2 separate regions of the Homo sapiens genome follow, and region 1 is linked to region 2. The links come from fine-mapping of genetic effects on gene expression. Tissue or cell type: fibroblasts. Region 2 holds a variant in brackets; the other region holds the start of a gene. All regions are shown on one strand. Distances are between the middles of the regions. Region 1 holds the start of MLLT3 (MLLT3 super elongation complex subunit). Region 2 overlaps MLLT3 (MLLT3 super elongation complex subunit).

Region 1 (8,736 bases), 24 kb after region 2:
TTTAAAACAATGGCTTATAGACTGCATAGAGAACCTCCACAGTTGAGTATAAAAATTGAGGAATCCAACCAACAAGCAGACATCTCTCACCAGAGACCTCTGAGAAGTCATCACTGCTATCAAGCAGCTTACCACGCCTAGCAACAACTCCCAGGTGTGGCCTATGTGAGCAGCACCCTCATGTTCCCTCAGGGCAGACAGAAAATCATTAAGTATAGGAAATAAAAATAACATCAATGCACACATCCACTGAAGCAGAAAAACAATGGTAAAATAGAGGTTGATCATCTTTAATTTCATAATGCCAATTTGTTGATTGTCAAGGTGCCTAAACAAAGTTACCTTAAGAGCTACATCTTCTGCCAACTGAGTTAATTTTCCTAATAAATGTTGCTTTTTAAAAGCTTATTTCACCTTGAAGTGAACTGCAGCCAAGTAGTAGTAATAATGTGTACCAAGGATCTTAGAAAGTGGTTTCTTTTGTTTAAACTCCTCTGCTCTACAGACACATGGAAAGGGAGAGAGAGAATCCGAGAAGCAGCATATCAACCTCATCAGCGATAGAAATTTGACATCGCTCATCCTTACCACAGTTTGGAGGAAATATGAAATATAATAATCTCTGACTATATTTTAACATAAAATGCTAACAAATTTCAAATGTTATTTCCTATAGGCCATGCATATTTCTAGCCCTCTATAAGAAACTGGATTTATTTATTAACCATCCAACAAAGACCATCAAATTCAACCGTTCAAGTTTTCAGGAGGAGTTATAAACCAAACCACTAAAGGCAAAAAATACAATCCTACTTCCCATTACATGAGCTCTGGAAACAAAACTAAGCACCAATACAAACCTCTGCCACCTCTAAGGCACACGACGCTTCTCCTTTCTTTATTCAGCCCCCTGAATGTTCAATAATTTCCACACAGCTCTAAGCAGAATGGATTTATTATGATATTACTCTAAGAAACGACAGGAGTTCTAGATGCCAATAAAGATTACGGATCAAATGGAAGATAACTACTAACCATTGTGTCGACTTAGATAAATAAACCTGCTCACAAACAAAGCACCTTATTGTATTTGTACTGTTACCTTCACTAATCCAACTAAAACAACCAGACATTAGTTTTCCAGAGGTTGAAGGGAAAAGAAATCGGTATTTCTCAAACCCTCTTTAAATTTCTTTCAAAATGACACTCCGTTTCTTTTTTCCAAAACTGTCCTGCCCATTATGGAAAATGTTTGGGACCACAGAGGCCCAGTAGGATTATGCAAACTAGACTCCAAGGCTAAGAACCAAGGTGGGGAGGGACTAAAGCAAAAGGCTTCCTCCACATCGTTCCTCTTCAACTTAGCTTCGACCTTTGCAAGAACAGTCTCCCTGCAGATCACATCCGGCAGACACTTTGGAACGTTGCTCAGAATCAAAGGAGCAGTCAAGTGGCACGCGGGGGTGGGAGGGAGGAACGAGTAAGCCCCCCAAGTAAACATAAAATCCAGACTGGAGTGGGTGTGGCGGTGGCTAAGCCACAAAAAGAAAAGTCTATGGCAACTGGCACCTGGTGCCTCATACACAGACAGGAAAGCACAGAAGACCCTAAAGAGAACCGACTTGCCAAGACCGAACAATAACTACATCCAATACATTCTTTGCTAATAACACAGGTAAATCTTAATTTCTCTAGGAAAACACACACACACACACACACACACACACACACACACACACACGCGCAAAGTGTTTATTCCCTCCAGCCCGATTCCCCACATCTCCAAACTCAACAACTAATTGCACCTTCCCCACAGAACCCGCGGCTAACCCCAGAGGACTGGTGAGGGCTGGCTTGGGATGAATAAACACTCGACACCTGACGGTCCTTTCTCTGCGGTGACTTTCACCAAGCCGAAGTGGCGCGCGCGCGGGCAGGCGGGAGCCGGGACCTGGCCCGCGCGGCGCCGCGCACCCGGATCCCGAGGCTACGCCGGCGAGCGCGGCGCGGGGGGCGGGGAGCGGGACAGCGGGACCGCCCGGGCCAAGCGATTGTTTCAAAGACATTTTTTATCAAGACCCTTTTGTATTCGAGCCCTACCTCTTTTTGGCCTAGGAAAGCTTTCGTGCAAGTGGAAGACGACTTTCTCCACAAAGTGCTGTATGTTACTGTGCTCCGGACCGCGTACGAACACCATCCAGTCGTGGGTGAAGCCCTCCACGGTGGGTTTTTTCCTCACCTGGGCGCGGTGCCCCAGCTCCAGCTTCACCTGCACGGCACACTGCGGGCAGGGGGAGGAGAGACAGCCGTGAATAACAGGAAGGCGAGGTTTCGGCAGTGAACGTTGCGCCTGACATTTTTTTCCTCCTTCTTGAAACGCACATAAAAGGAAACGGCGGTGCCCTCTGCATCCACGTTTCACGCGCGTGGGCGCGCACACTCCACACCCCCAAATATACCCGCCCGCCCGGCCCGGCTTGGCCCCAGGCGCCCCGGGCCCCGCATCTACATCGGACAGGATTGTAACGGAATGTTATCCCCAGTCGGGAAGGGGGTCGGGGAAAAGAGGGAGAACACACTCAGCCACGACAAGCACGACAACAAATGCATCGGAAACAAATCAGAAGGCGATGCCGGGGCGGTTTCCCGGCGTGGGAGGGGAGGTGGCTGGGACCCAGGGGGACCGAAGGGCTCCTGGCGAGCCCCCTCCCCGAAAGTACCGCGGCGACAGGCACACGCCGAGGAAGTCTTTGTGTACGTGTGTGTGCGTGCGTGTGGAGCGCTGTGCCAGGCGAAATGGAAACTACAGGCAGCCTCTGCTGATGGGCACAAACTCCCGTGCTCTTGCCACGGGGTTCGTGCACAACAAAAATGAGACGTCGTCATACACACTGAAACACACACACACGCCCGCAGGAAAACACGCCGAGGCATCCATAACTTAGAGCACCCCGCACCCCCCAGCGAAAAGCCCCACGCGATCGGCGAGGCCAGTCGAACCGAGCCCCCGCAACACACTTTCAAGAGCCCAAGTGGCTCCAAAGTATCTCCCACCTCCCCCCAAAAAATGAAATTCAGAAAGGCAGGGCGGCGGGCGGACAGCCGCCGAGCCTCGGCTCGCGCTCAGCACCTCCCGGCGCTGGGGCAAAGTTGCGTGCGGCCCCGCCGCTGTCAGCCCCGCACACTTCGGCTCACACACGCGCGCCGCGGAGAACGCACCATCGTAGCGGCCGCGGCGCTTTGCGGAGGTGCGGCCGCCGAGGCTGCTCGCCGCGTCCCCGGACTGTGCCCGCAGCTCCCGGCGGCGGCGGCTGAAATATGGCTGAGTTATTATTCGCCTCCTTCCACCGTGTGTGTGTGTGTGTGTGAGTGCGCGCGTGTGAGCGAGAGGGAGTGTGTGAGTGCGCTTCTTGTGACTGCAAAGAGGCGAGGAGGGAGGGAGGCGCGGGGGGTGGAGGGGCGAGTGTGAGCGTGTGTGAGTGTGTGTGTGTCTGTGTGTCTGTGTGCGCGCCGGGGGGGGGTGGGGGAGGAGGGGAGCGGAGGCTGAGGGAGAGGCGGCAGCTCCCTGCAAGCCGTACCAACCTTTCTCTAATTGGAACCGCGGAGCGCTGGCGCTGTCTGGGCTGCGGCGGCGCAGGGCGAGGAAGGAAAGTGGGGGAGGGCTTTTATTATTATTTTTGCGCGTACTTACCGAGCTAGCCATGCCTGGGGGCCCGGAGGTTTGCTGGGGTGTTGTGTGGTACCCCCCCCTCCTCCGCCCCCCCTCAGCTGTAATTCATGAAGAGGCTGCTATGAATGAGAGCGCGCCCAGGAGCGGAGGGTAGATGGCGGACATTCTCTGCCTTTTTCCCCCCGCGCTCGCTTGCTCGCTCGCTCGCTTATTAAACTCAGCCCCAAAAGCAAAAGCAGCAGCAGCAGCAGCAGCTCCAGGGTAAAGAAGATGATTGCGGAGCATGCGCCGTGGCGCCTGACACCCGGGCTCCGAGCCTCACAGGGCGGAGGGAGGGCTTGCGGGCGGGGCGGAGCGCGCGGGGAGGCAGAGCGAGCGAGCCAGGGGGAGCTCGAAAGAGCCAATCACCTGCCACCTCCCGAAACCCCGGCGGCCCGCAGCGCCACACTGGAAAGCCTCGCTTAAAGTAACAGGTTCCTGCTGGGGGGGTGGCAGGGAGGGGACGCAGGAGTGGGGAGAGCGGCCAGCTGGGGAGCCATCCCAGCCCCTGTGTAAACTCTGCTCGCCCTACAATAAAAAACGGATTAAAACTGCTGGAATGTAGCCACTGCTTAGAGCCCTCAGCAGCCGGAGAGGGGGTGTTAAATCAAGTCCTTAGCTAGTACGCACGGGGAGGAGGGAGTGGGCTTTCTTTTACTTTCCACCACGTATTTCTGTGGTTTTGTGCTGAAAAGACAAGAACTCACACCCAAACAAACTTACTTAAAGAGAGCGAGAGAAATGCCATCCTGCAAAAAACGAGCATGAAAATAGCAATGACTGAGGCTGTTCTAACCCGCAACGATCCCCTGGCCCCCTGCCCCATCCACTCACAGGCACCCGCCCGCCACCCTCACTCCCCGCCCTTCTGCCACCGCCACCGAAAATTTGAAAATGAAATGAACAAGGGAGAAACAAGGATGCTATTTCCTTGCAAGGGAACGCCTTCCGCTTTGGTAATCCCCGGCTGGGAAGCTTCATAAAGCGGTGCCCAGGTGAAAGCAAGACACCTGGGAGTGCCGGGTACAGACCCTCGGGGACCAGGCTTGGAGTTGTTTTCTTCGGGGGGCTTCCCCTCCTGACAGCCTACTGAGTTGCATCAGAACGTGGAGGATTGTCCTCTGAGGACGCGCGGGGCAACCGGGAGTCTTAAAATAGCAGATAAAGTTAATACTGACTGTAATGTGCGTAAATTGGATTATAATCTTTAGGCGTATTGGTGACAACCAGCGTAATCCATCTCTGAGTATTAATCCGGTTAGACTCCCGGGTGACAGCCAGTCGCAGGAGTGTTCCCAGAGTCGCGCCTCTGCAAATGTTCTCACTCGCGTTGTATTTGATCTCAGTGGCCGGAGATAGAACAGCGCGGCCACGCGTGGGGCGCGGAGAGGAGTATCAACTACTGGCTTCCTTTACAGACGCAGATAACCTTTAAAAAGGAAACGGATAAGATCTAGACGATTGATTTGAAAGTGAAAGATGGATGTGACTTTGGTTCGTTAAAAAAAGATCCTTGCATCTTCCTAGCCCTTAGACCTCTTTTGCCTTCTCTTTACTCCCCTTTTTCCCTCGCCTTCCAACTTCTTGCTGAACCTTGATTTTTCCTTCTCTTCTCCTTGCCTTTCCTCTTTGTCCCTCTTTCTTTCCTCTTTGTCCCTTTCTTTCCTCTTTGTCCCTTTCTTTCCTCTTTGTCCCTCTTCCTCTTTCTGACTGAACTTCCTTGCTTTCCTCTTTTCCCTTTACTTCCCTTTTCCACAAAAGCAAGTTGTCTCGGCCCTTGAATTGAGAAGAGCAGAATAGCGGGGAGGACGTTACCTAGGGCGTCCTGTGTCCTCGCTGTTAATTTTCAGTTCTCCCAGCAGCTCTCACAAAGATCCTGGGAATCAGGTCGGACCACTTGGAACCAACCTTAGTTTCCAAACCAGCAGCCTTCCAACTCAACTTTTGATTCCCTAAAACTGATATTCCGCTGCCTGTCAGTTATAATCAAGAAACTTCTTTGGCTTGAGGTCCCCAGTTCTTCCCAGCCTTCTACAGGATTTAGCATAGAATGGAGCAAACGACTGAAGGTAGAAACATTTTAATCTAAATCCAAGGGCTTAGATTTGTCAACTGACACACATATACATAACTGCATATCATCCTGTAGGTATATGCGTCGCTGTGTCTGTATGTATGTACAAGGACTACGTTTATATTCGCAGAGACAAGCTGTGTGGGTAGTATCTACGTGAAGGGGGGACCTATTTATTGTGCATTATTAAACTTTTCATAAAATAATCAAATTTGAGAGCAGTCCTTTGTAATAATAGTATTGGAAACTAAAGGTTATCTGGACGTGCCATTAGTAAAGCCATTTCTTATTAAGAAGTAACCATTAACAGCGAGTGTAGCTCAGGACACAGGCAAAAAACAACAATCCCATTCCCCGTTTGAGTTCATTTCAGGGTTTAACTTCTTCCGGCGCCAGCCACCGGACTCTCTTGAGATTGTCTCCAAAACTTGTACCCGCACAACAGATAGAGGTCTCTTTTTTGAATTATGTGTTTGCTGAATTCAGATTTATTCCAGCAATCACTAATAAGCCATAGAGTCTGAAAGGGTATTTTCCCAGTACCCCTCCTTCCTCAAAGAATGCTCTAACAACCCAACGTAGTTACTCCCAATCTCCAAATACTGGACATTTAGATTCCGTCAGTAGATGGCGCACGGAGCTCTTCCACGGACGTCCTTACGTGACCCCTTCACAACAAAAAGATCAGGAAGGGGGAGAAAAGAAAGAAAAGAAAACACAAGACTGAATACTCTCCCTTCAACTTTGGACAAAGAAATTTATGCAAGTCTGTCAATTTATTAATTACAACCTATTTTAATAAGCTTGCCATTAAAAACAATTAAAATCGATTAATTTCCTGTGCAGATCTTCACACTTTAACGTGAGGTAAAAATGTGGAAAATAACCTTTTGTGTACTTGACAATGTGGTTATAGAAAATGTACTGTAAAGAAATTTTAAGACAAACTTCAGTGCTAAATACAGAAATAGTAATATAATAACTAAAATGGAAGTGGTGAGGGATAAAATCATCTACTTATCCAAAGAATAATTATCTTACCAAAATTCATACTGTTGTATATAGCACAGTATGAAGCACCATGGGGTTAGTTTGAAGATCAGAAAAGTAATTAACATATCAAATAAAAATCGTGATGAAGAATAAAAGAGAACAGTGTCTGTGACAGATCACTACCACCACTACCATCACCATTGCCCTACCACCATCATTTTGGCTCCAGCCTTTTTATTTGCAATTGTTTTCTTTAGTCTGGAAGCTAAAGCCAGTTTCCATGTTTCTGGCAGAACAAAGAGAGGGCCTTTAACGTGTAATTAGAGTGTTAAGGAGCATCCTAAAATAAACTTATCTATTTGTTGTGATAGATAATTGATGCACAAATTCAAATCAATAAAAATTTACCATTTATTTCCCGTCATTGCTGTATAGACTTGGGGAGAAAAGAGGAAGAAGAAGCATGGAAAAAACTAGAAAATGTGCCAGACTCTAAATAGACATTTTGCAAAAATCAGACTCAAAGTAATTAAGGATTCTTCTTCCATAATTGTGCACCTTTTTCTGTGTACTGCATCCATGTGTTTATTCACAAAATCATTCCACGTCTCAGGCAGAGAGTTAGGCCCTAAGACTGTAAGAATGACAGGATTCCTGATATCAGAGTTTATAAACCAGGGGAGAAGTTTCGCCAAAAACTTTTTTTTTTTTAAATTTCATAACAGCTAAATTTGGGATAAGATGCGTGTCATATATAAGCGAGGAGCATAGAAACCTGACATGAACAGCCCAAGGACAGGAAAAACAGTGGCATGAGATTAGAAGCCAGGAGTCATTGTCCTTAATTCCACCTTTTAATACTTAAAAGGTGGGGAGAGGCAGATATCTTTCTTGCAACAGCAGCCAGTTCCTACTTTCCTTTTTCTTGATCTGAAGTATTTTGTATGTTCACTTTTTTACAGCTCTTTTAGGGAGAAAAAAAAAAATCCCACAATGAAAGAAAGCTAAGTCTTTTCAAGATCATGAGCAATTCTCAGTTGAAATCATCTCCCCATTTCTTATGGAAATTTTTGGTTCAAAATGTTACATGTTTAACATTATATTTAATTCATGATTCTAGGATAGTGTGGGAACACTAGAATGGTAAGACTCATTACTATTTTGAAAAAAAGATTGCTTTGATAGCCGTTTGAGCACCTAGTCCAGGACTATTTCCAGAGATAAGAAATACACAGAGCTTTTTTAACCACCAGTGCCTCTTCATGTGTAAATTATTCCCTGAGAGTAATTTAAGCAATGCACTTATACATGCAGAAGACAAGAGTGCCTCCACTGTAATAATTTATTAATTTAGTGGGCTGTATCCTTAATTTAATAAGTAGCACCTCAAGGCCTGAAAATTAATCAAGGATGTCGTGTAAAACCAGCAATATGAAACAAAATAAGTATTGGGGGACAGTTGATATAGAGTGATTGAAAGAGTCTCCCTAATATATACAGGATGCTTAGTGGAATAGTTCTAGGTAAAATACATATTGAGTTGAAAATGCTTGCTGTAAAACAATCTATCTAAAAAGTAGACCAAATGACTATATCTTTATGTATCTCTGGCATCTCTTCAAACGCTACTGTGCAATGTTCCTTCTTTCTTTATGTAATGATTTGATCTCTTTTATTTTTAATGGAAATTCTGTTTGTTTTTATATATGAGTTCACCTCTCCCACTCACATATAATGAATCAGGGCTTAAAATAATCACTTTATCTTAAAATAATAAAATATATTTTGTCTTTTTGGTAAAAATGGAAAAATAACATATCAGGCCTATGAACTAATTTGGACAGCTCAAACTTCAACAAAAACTGCCAAAAACTTAGGAAAAAGAAGTAACTCCTAGCCGGGCACAGTGGCTCACGCCTGTAATCCCAGCACTTTGGGAGGCCGAGGTGGGCAGATCATG
Region 2 (8,000 bases):
TTAAGGGTTCTCTTATAAAAGGGAGGGGGGCAATATGTCAGAGGTGTTTGAACCAGAGCAAGTCCATGTTGAATAGGGGCTGGGTAAAATAAGGCTGAGAATTACTGGGCTACATTCCCAGAAGATTAAGGCAGTCTTAGTCACAGGATAAGACAAAAGGTTGGCACAAGACATAGGTCATAAAGACCCTGCTTACAAAACAGACTGAGGTAAAGAAGTCAGCCAAAACCCGCCAAAACCCACCAAAACCAAGAAGGCGATGAAAGTGACCTTTGGTCATCCTCACTGCTCACTATATGCTAATTATAACGCATTAGCATGGTAAAAGACACTCCCACCAATGCCAAGATAGTTTACAAATGCCACAGCAATGTCAGGAAGTTCCCCTGTATGGTCCAAAAAGGAGAGGAACCCTCAGTTCCAGGAATTGCCCAGCCCCTTCCCATAAAACTCATGAATAATCCACCCCTTGTTTAGCATATAATCAAGAAATAACCATAAAAATGTCCAAACAGCAGCTCATACTGCTGCTCTGCCTATGGAGTAGCCATTCTTTTGTTTCTTTACTTCTCTAATAAACTTACTTTCACTTAAAAAAAAAATTACTGGGCATGGGGGTTGCAGGGTGCCGTGGCTCACAACTGTCATCCCAGCACTTTGAGAGGCCAATTCGGGAGGACTATTTGAGCCAAGGAGTTCAAGACCAGCCTAGGCAACAAAGTGAGATCTCCATCTCTACAAAAAGAAGAAGAAAAGAAAAAATTAGCCAGGCATGGAGGTGTGTGCCTGTGGATCCAGCTACACAAGAGGCTGAGACAGGAGGATCGCTTGATCCCAGGAGACTGAGGCAGCAGTGAATCGTCTTCATACATACCACTGCACTCCAGCCTGAGTGACAGAGCAAGACCCTATCTCAAAAAACAATAAAATAAAATAAAAATTACTGGAAAAATAAGGTTATATTACTTTATAATTTATATTATAATTTTATATTACCACATACTTCACTAAGTTATCCATAAAATCAGACACAGGAAACATTTGTCACAATATAAAATTTTGTCAAAACCATAAACAGGAAAAATAGAATAGATCCTGTATCTATCATTTGAAACATAAGCGTTATCAAAGAAGGAAAATCACCAATTTGCAACCCCAATAAAATAGTTAATTCAAGCTCATCAAAAAAAGATCAGCAGTAGATGCTAAGACCATTAGAGAAAAGATTATTGTAGCACATGACGTTTGAAAGATACAAAGTGTCATAATGCTAGTAGCAGTAACCACAAAAAAAGAAAGACACGATTTTATATAAAAAGTCTTATCAGATTCTTTTCCTCTACTTTTTATCCCTCACAAAAGCACATATACTATCTGAATCCCACTGTAAAAAGAAGTCCGGGAAATCTGTTACCATTTCTCTACCTAGCTCTGTCCAATACGGCAGCCACTAGCTACCCATGACTGTTAAGTCCTCAAATGTGGCAAGTGACTGAGGAATTAAATGTTTTATTTTAAATAATTTAAATTTTAAAAGCCACATATGTCTAGTGGCTATTGTTTTAGACAGTACTGCTGCAGGGTATAAACAAACCTAGCCATGAAAGACAATATAAAAAGTCACAAGCTTAAATTATGGGCAGGCTTAAGGGAAAACTTGAAAAACTTATAAAACTATTTTATAAGCTTTTATCACCAGATAATTCTGTATCAGGAATTGCCTCCATTGAACTTTCTTATAGCATGTTTTCTTGACTACAAAAAATAAATGCTGAATAAAAGCTTGCGGAATTAAATTTATAAAGCTTTAAACCTACCCCAAAACACTGAATTACCAGGAAAACTATGGCATTTAATTAAATGTATAGGAGTACCCTGATTTAAGACGTCCCTATTTTCATGACTGATTTTTAAAAACTGATTTGCAGTTTTCATTTAAAATAATAAGCTCTGGCCAGGCATGGTGGCACACGCCTATAATCCCAGCACTTTGGGAGGCCAAGGCAGGCGGATCACCTGAGGTCAGGAGTTCAAGACCAGCCTGGCCAACATGGTGAGACCTTGTCTCTACTAAAAATACAAAAAATTAGCTGGGCATGGTGGTGCATGCCTGTAGTCCCAGTTACTTGAGAGGCTGAGGCATGAGAATCGCTTGAGCCCAGGAGCTGGAGGTTGCAATGAGCTGAGATGTGCCACTGCACTCCAGCCTGGGCTGGGCCACAAAGCAAGACTCCATCTCAAAAAATAAATAAATAAAATAAAATAATAAGCTGCTTGAAAACATTAAAAATGTAGTCTCACTCACAAAATATTATTATGGGTCCCTTGCAATTACACATTAATTTTAAATCAGCTTGTCAATTTACAAAGAAGCCAGTTGGAGTTCTGACTGATAGGGACTGTATGTAACCTGAAGCAATTTGGGGGAGTATTGCCATCGTAATATTAAGTCTCCCAATCCATGAACATGGAATATTTTTTCATTTATTTAAATAGTCCTCTATTTCTTTCAACAATGTTTTGTAGTTTCACAGCACAAATTTCACATCTGTTTTGTTAAATGTGTTCCTAAGTATTTTACTCTTTTTGATGCTATTATAAATAAAATTGTTTCCTTAATTTCATTTTCAGATTGTTCATTGCAAGTACGTAGAAATACTATCTTTTTATACTAATCTTGTATGCTATAACCTTGATAAATTCATCCATTATGGGGATAGTACAGGTAGTACCTCAATTCATAGGGATCATTAGACTAATAAGGTAATTATTGGAGAGTACCCAGTACTCAGCCTGGCACACAGTAGGCCACTGAAGTACTTTTATTTATCTAGGGCCTTACAAAGGTGTCTTACTATAAAGTTGTTATTTAATACCACTTATGTGCAAAGGTCTGAGTAACACAGTGACTTAAAAAAAAAAAAAATCCTGTCCATAAGGAGCTAGAGGTCTTACTGCAGAAATAGATCATCCTTGTCCCACAAGTAATTTGTATAGACATCATATTAAAAATCTGAATAAGATTTCCTTTACAACAAATTTACCTTCATATACTGTTAAGAGCCTCAGAAGACCATCTACTTTTCAACCATACAAATGAGGTTCATCCCTCCTTCTTCTTACTATGTTTATTACTAGATTCTTCCATAACTCTTCTGAACACCAGTATTACTGCAGAGTGGTGTCATGTATTGCACTTGACCAATAAGATAAGAAAGTTTTAGCGTCTTGTAATTACTAGCTTTGTTTTTTCTTTCTGTGAAGCCTATTTCATGCTTTTGAATTTTCAGAAGAGAAACAAAAAGAAATGGAAAATAAAAGGAGTAAGAGATTACAATAAGTAAGGTTCCTATAGAACTGCAGTCACCAATTCTGCCATTCTATAGAAGCTTACTAATATTTTTTAACTAAAACAATTTTTTTCCAAATAGTTCTTTAAACTTAGATATCTGCTTAGTGTTCCAAAGCACCATTTAAAATCAACCAGGTCCTGTTTCTGTCTCAGCAACATTTGCTTTACTTCTAAATAATTGTTAATTTACATTTATTTGTTGGAAGAAAGACAGCCACAACCTAACAAACCACAATTTGTGCCACAAAGTCTAATCTTAGCCCAGATCTATTTTTGGATTCATAACAGCTTGAGCTAAAGAAGAATTTCATTACATTGTTCAAGTTGGGTCATAAACAGTCTCTGAAAAGAGAAGCAAACCAACATAAAATGCTGTAGAAACCAAAAATGATATAAAATATGAAAGATTCAGGTTCAAACATCTGCTATATAAATGGAAACATTACTGTGCTCATCTTCAATCTCTACTTACCACTTTATGTTCCCAAAAAACTCCGTTCCTACCAAACTATAACTTATTTAAATTACACTGAAATTTATCCACTTACAAATCTATCTCCCCTTCGCCCCACATATGAGTCTCTGAGGGCAGAGAAGCCATATGTCTAACTAGATGTGTAAATTTGGAAGAGAAGTAGGATGTGCAACATAAGGCATTTCCATCCCACCCCAATAACCATCCAACCTGTAAGTTCTCAAAAATGGCTTTAGTTTTGCTTTTATCATTCTAACAGTTGCCATTAGTCATTCTTTAGGTGAGGACACTACAGCCTTCAGTGAAGCACTGCTCAGACAGTATATAAGACAAATGACACAAAACAAAATAAAGTTATCTAATTACCAGAAGTGATGATCAGTAAACTGAATCCATCTAAGTTTTAGCTAATTTACCTGATAGACAGTACACTTCTAAAACTACCTTTATGAAGTGCTGAGCTATTTAAGTGAAACCAAATAAAGGTGATTCACTCAAAAGCTGTCCAGAAAACCTGGTGGCAATGCTAATCAATTTAAGCAAATCACAACATAAGTTTCCAATTTTCTTTTCCAAATTAGAGTTACTTTCCTCAAACCCTATTCTGCTGCTTTAGGCTTCTGATTAGGTTAAGAAAGGGAAACAAAAATTAAAGGGAAAAGCACAATATTCAATGATTAAGAGATGTGCCAAATTTCCACGTATCCAGAGGACTCAAATCATTAGAATTTTCTTTGAGTAGGCCAGGCGCGGTGGCTCACGCCTGTAATCCCAGTACTTTGGGAGGCCAAGGCGGGCAGATCACGAGGTCAAGAGATCGAGACCATGCTAGCCAACATGGTGAAACCCTGTCTCTACTAAAAATACAAAAATTAGCTGGGCATGGTGGCACGCGCCTGCAGTCCCAGCTACTCAGGAAGCTGAGACAGGAGAATCACTTGAACCAGGGAGATGGAGGTTGCAGTGAGCCAAGATCGTGCCACTGCACGTCAGCCTGGGCGACAGAGTAAGACTCTGTCTCCAAAAAAAAAAAAAAAAGAGAATTTTCTTTGAGTATCATGCAATGATGACTAATATTTATAAATACAATCCTAAGACATAAAGTTCCTCAAATGCCTTCAGAATTTCTGAAGGAAAACTAAAT[C/T]ACATTCTGAAACAATTAGTAACCAGATGTTTAAAAAAAAAAAAAAAAGGTAGCATGAAACCTCTCATGTTTCTCCCCATTGTCCATGGTAAACATAACCAAGAACTGAATATTGTACTAAGCCAGACTTAGGCCTCAGAATCCTTCTCATTAGACCAACCTAAAAGTAGAGATATGACCTAGAAGCATGGTATAAACAGAGTAAAACAGTGATGAGCTTAGGACTTGGAGTCAAAAGGCCTGAGTTTAAATCTTAGTTATGCCACTCTAAAAAAGGGTGACTATATAATCTATCATCCAAAGAGCAATAGTTCTGACACCAACACAGGACAATAGGTATATACTTGGACTGTCCTCAGCAAAACAGGACATAGAGTCACCATATTCATAGGCCACATGGACCATGGGCAAGTTAGTTAATCTTCAGTCTTGGATGCCACGTCTGTAAAATAACAAGGTGTAAAATTAAACCTTCAGTAACTATAAATTGCTTAGCTTTCTTCTTTTTTCACCTATATAATATTATATTGTACGATGCTAACCCAGTGAGTTCAGAAATTGCAAGAACACTGCACTTATACAGCCTTATAAAGAGAACCCTCAAAGAGATGAAAATCCATCTTTGACAGATTCAGGATAATTTTTTTAAATCCACACTGATTCTCTTTCTTATCAAACATTTCACTTGCAATGTTGTCCAAAAAAAAAAAACAAAAAACAAAAAAAAAACACTTAGTTCAAATTCTGATACCTGGGCAGTACTAAACACTCAGAACTCTGTTTCCACAGCTTCATTTTTCATAGCTTCATAAAAGCACTCATCTTGTTGTGCTGTTATTGTGTTTGTGTGTATGGAAAACATGCCTGATGCCAGACTAAGCATTTCCAGAAGGTAAGAACCACGTCTGTTTTGTTGCTATCCTCCATGTTTACTGCAGTGCCTGGCACATAGATGGTGCTCAATGTTGGCTGAATAAGTAATCAATACTTTAGAAATACAACCCCTTCCTTAACCAACCCCAACTGGTGTACATTCTCAACCCATGAAAATATTCTGTAAGGATGTATCCTTCTTTTCCCATCTGAGTGTTCACACTCCTCAGGAATAACAGCAATCCAAATGTTTCTTCTCTATAGAGTGATGTCACCTATTTCCCGATTAAGGAACCCACCTTGAAATCCAACTAGATTTTAGGCTTTTGGGAGATTCCCATTTTAAATCCTTACTCAGAAGCTTCTGATCCTTCACACACCATCTTAAACCTTACTCTTCTTTCAAAGCCAGAACTGACTGCCTGAACACCCAATTATCTCCACCCATTTCCACTTCTTTTATCCTACCCCAGTGAACTATTTTCATCCAGCCATAACTATAGAGCCTTCCCCTAGAAAGTAAGGTATACATGACATAGATCACTCTACTTATTATGGGAGAATCAGAATCCAATGGGAAAAAATTTAAACCAAAGCAAATTAATACAGTCAAAATTCAACGGCACCTTCAATGGTAAAATGGCTTTAAATTGTGACAAAGCCCCAGGGGTCCCTAAGGCATTTCTAGGGTTTCTTTAAATAAAAAAAAAGTGTAGTCAATCACAGACATGTTTGCTTTTTCTCTGCACCGTTGCCCCCAGACTCAGATTGCTCTAGGGGCTGGGGTTTGGAGGCAAAACAATGAAGCATTTGACAACGTCAAAACGTCAGAATGACATTCTGGAAACAAACTTCACTTTGGGCTACCCACTTAAGTAGAGACATACCATGATACACTGCCCACCTTTAGTTCAGAATATTCTCCAGGTGAGAGGAACAAATAATTAAGGCGTTTTGTATTCAAAAAGATGTCTCTGGCTTCCAGATCAAAAATAGTCATAGAAAGTAGAAAGTTTATTCTGCGTGTTTCTAAAAAAACACATGAAAACTTACCTAGCAAAGTCTCACACTTCACTATAATAAATGATCTGCAACTGACTGTGGAAAATATGTAACTTTTATATGGAAAAATACTTAGCTGTAGCAACAGCAGACTGTTCTTACCCCAAGCTAAATAACAACAGCAATATGAAACTGTAAATGTCTACTAAGATAGAGTTGGAAACTTTGTGACTCCACTATCCCTCCTCCCCCAGAGTTTCTTTTGCTCCACAAAAATAATTTTAGTCAGATGGGAATAGGGAAAAAACTGCAAACAGAAAGAAGTGTAGTTTCAATGTGAGTACAATATTGAGTGTCCTGAAAGCAGACAGATCCTCAATAATGTAGCTTCAATAAAAACTTCCTAAACCCTTTCTTTTTTTGTTCCTTTGAGAAAATGAAGCAATTTGCATTTACAGCTTAGTTCCTGTTTCCAAAATATCCCTTTAACTTTTTCTTTTCTCTTTTTATGGTGGGTATAAATAGCACCAAATTGTCAAATCACAGCTATTTTGTGTGCTACCTATACAAATAGGTCTGATTTCTGGCCAGTCATAAAACAATTACTGCTGAATTCCTCTGGCTCTTTGATATCCAGCTTGTCCACCGGGCTTCAAAGCTAGACTCCAGGACTTTTCTTGGGGCACTGCTGAAAAACAACCTCAACAGAAACACAGAAGATAAAATGTTCCCACTCCTATAAACACACAAAGATATAATCCCAGAAGTAAAACAATTCAGCAGCACTGTGGTGGGTTCTTCCCCCTCACGATAATTTAAGAGTACAAGTATTTTAAATTATTTTTTAGCGATATGAATCAATGAGAACTTCTTCCCGCTAACTCGTATGGCTATTTTCTCCATTTTCAAGCCTCCAAAAATTAAGAATTACTTTGCTTTCAGAGAAATTTTCTGATTTACTAAAATAACTTATCCCATGGGAACTTACTGGGATGGAATGAAAGTTCAGCTTCTTAAGCACATAAATAACTATACAGCATAGTATTTATTCAATGTAGCAAAACTCATTCAAGCTAGAAGCTTTCAATAAGGTTAAATGTGGTCAGAATTTCAATAAAGGAATTGTATGTATGGGCAAATTATATGTTTTGACT

What was found. PIP is the estimated chance that this variant, and not a neighbour inherited with it, causes the effect.
Region 1: MLLT3 starts here. The variant in region 2 is fine-mapped to the expression of MLLT3 in fibroblasts (GTEx, PIP above 0.99).

Annotation. Positions count from the first base shown.
Region 1 is chr9:20,618,554-20,627,289 of GRCh38, forward strand. MLLT3 (MLLT3 super elongation complex subunit) reads right to left here and starts at 3,946. Exons shown (of 11, transcript NM_004529.4): 1 at 3,692-3,946; 2 at 2,101-2,281. The coding sequence starts at 3,703. RefSeq lists silencers at 1,895-2,014, 3,235-3,284, 3,355-3,504, 3,925-4,384, 4,405-4,544 and an enhancer at 2,175-2,304.
Region 2 is chr9:20,594,456-20,602,455 of GRCh38, forward strand. All of the region lies in intron 2 of MLLT3 (MLLT3 super elongation complex subunit), which reads right to left. Among named protein-coding and RNA genes, the nearest start is that of MLLT3, 24 kb to the right of the region's middle. The variant C/T (reference allele first, on the strand shown) is at 4,972.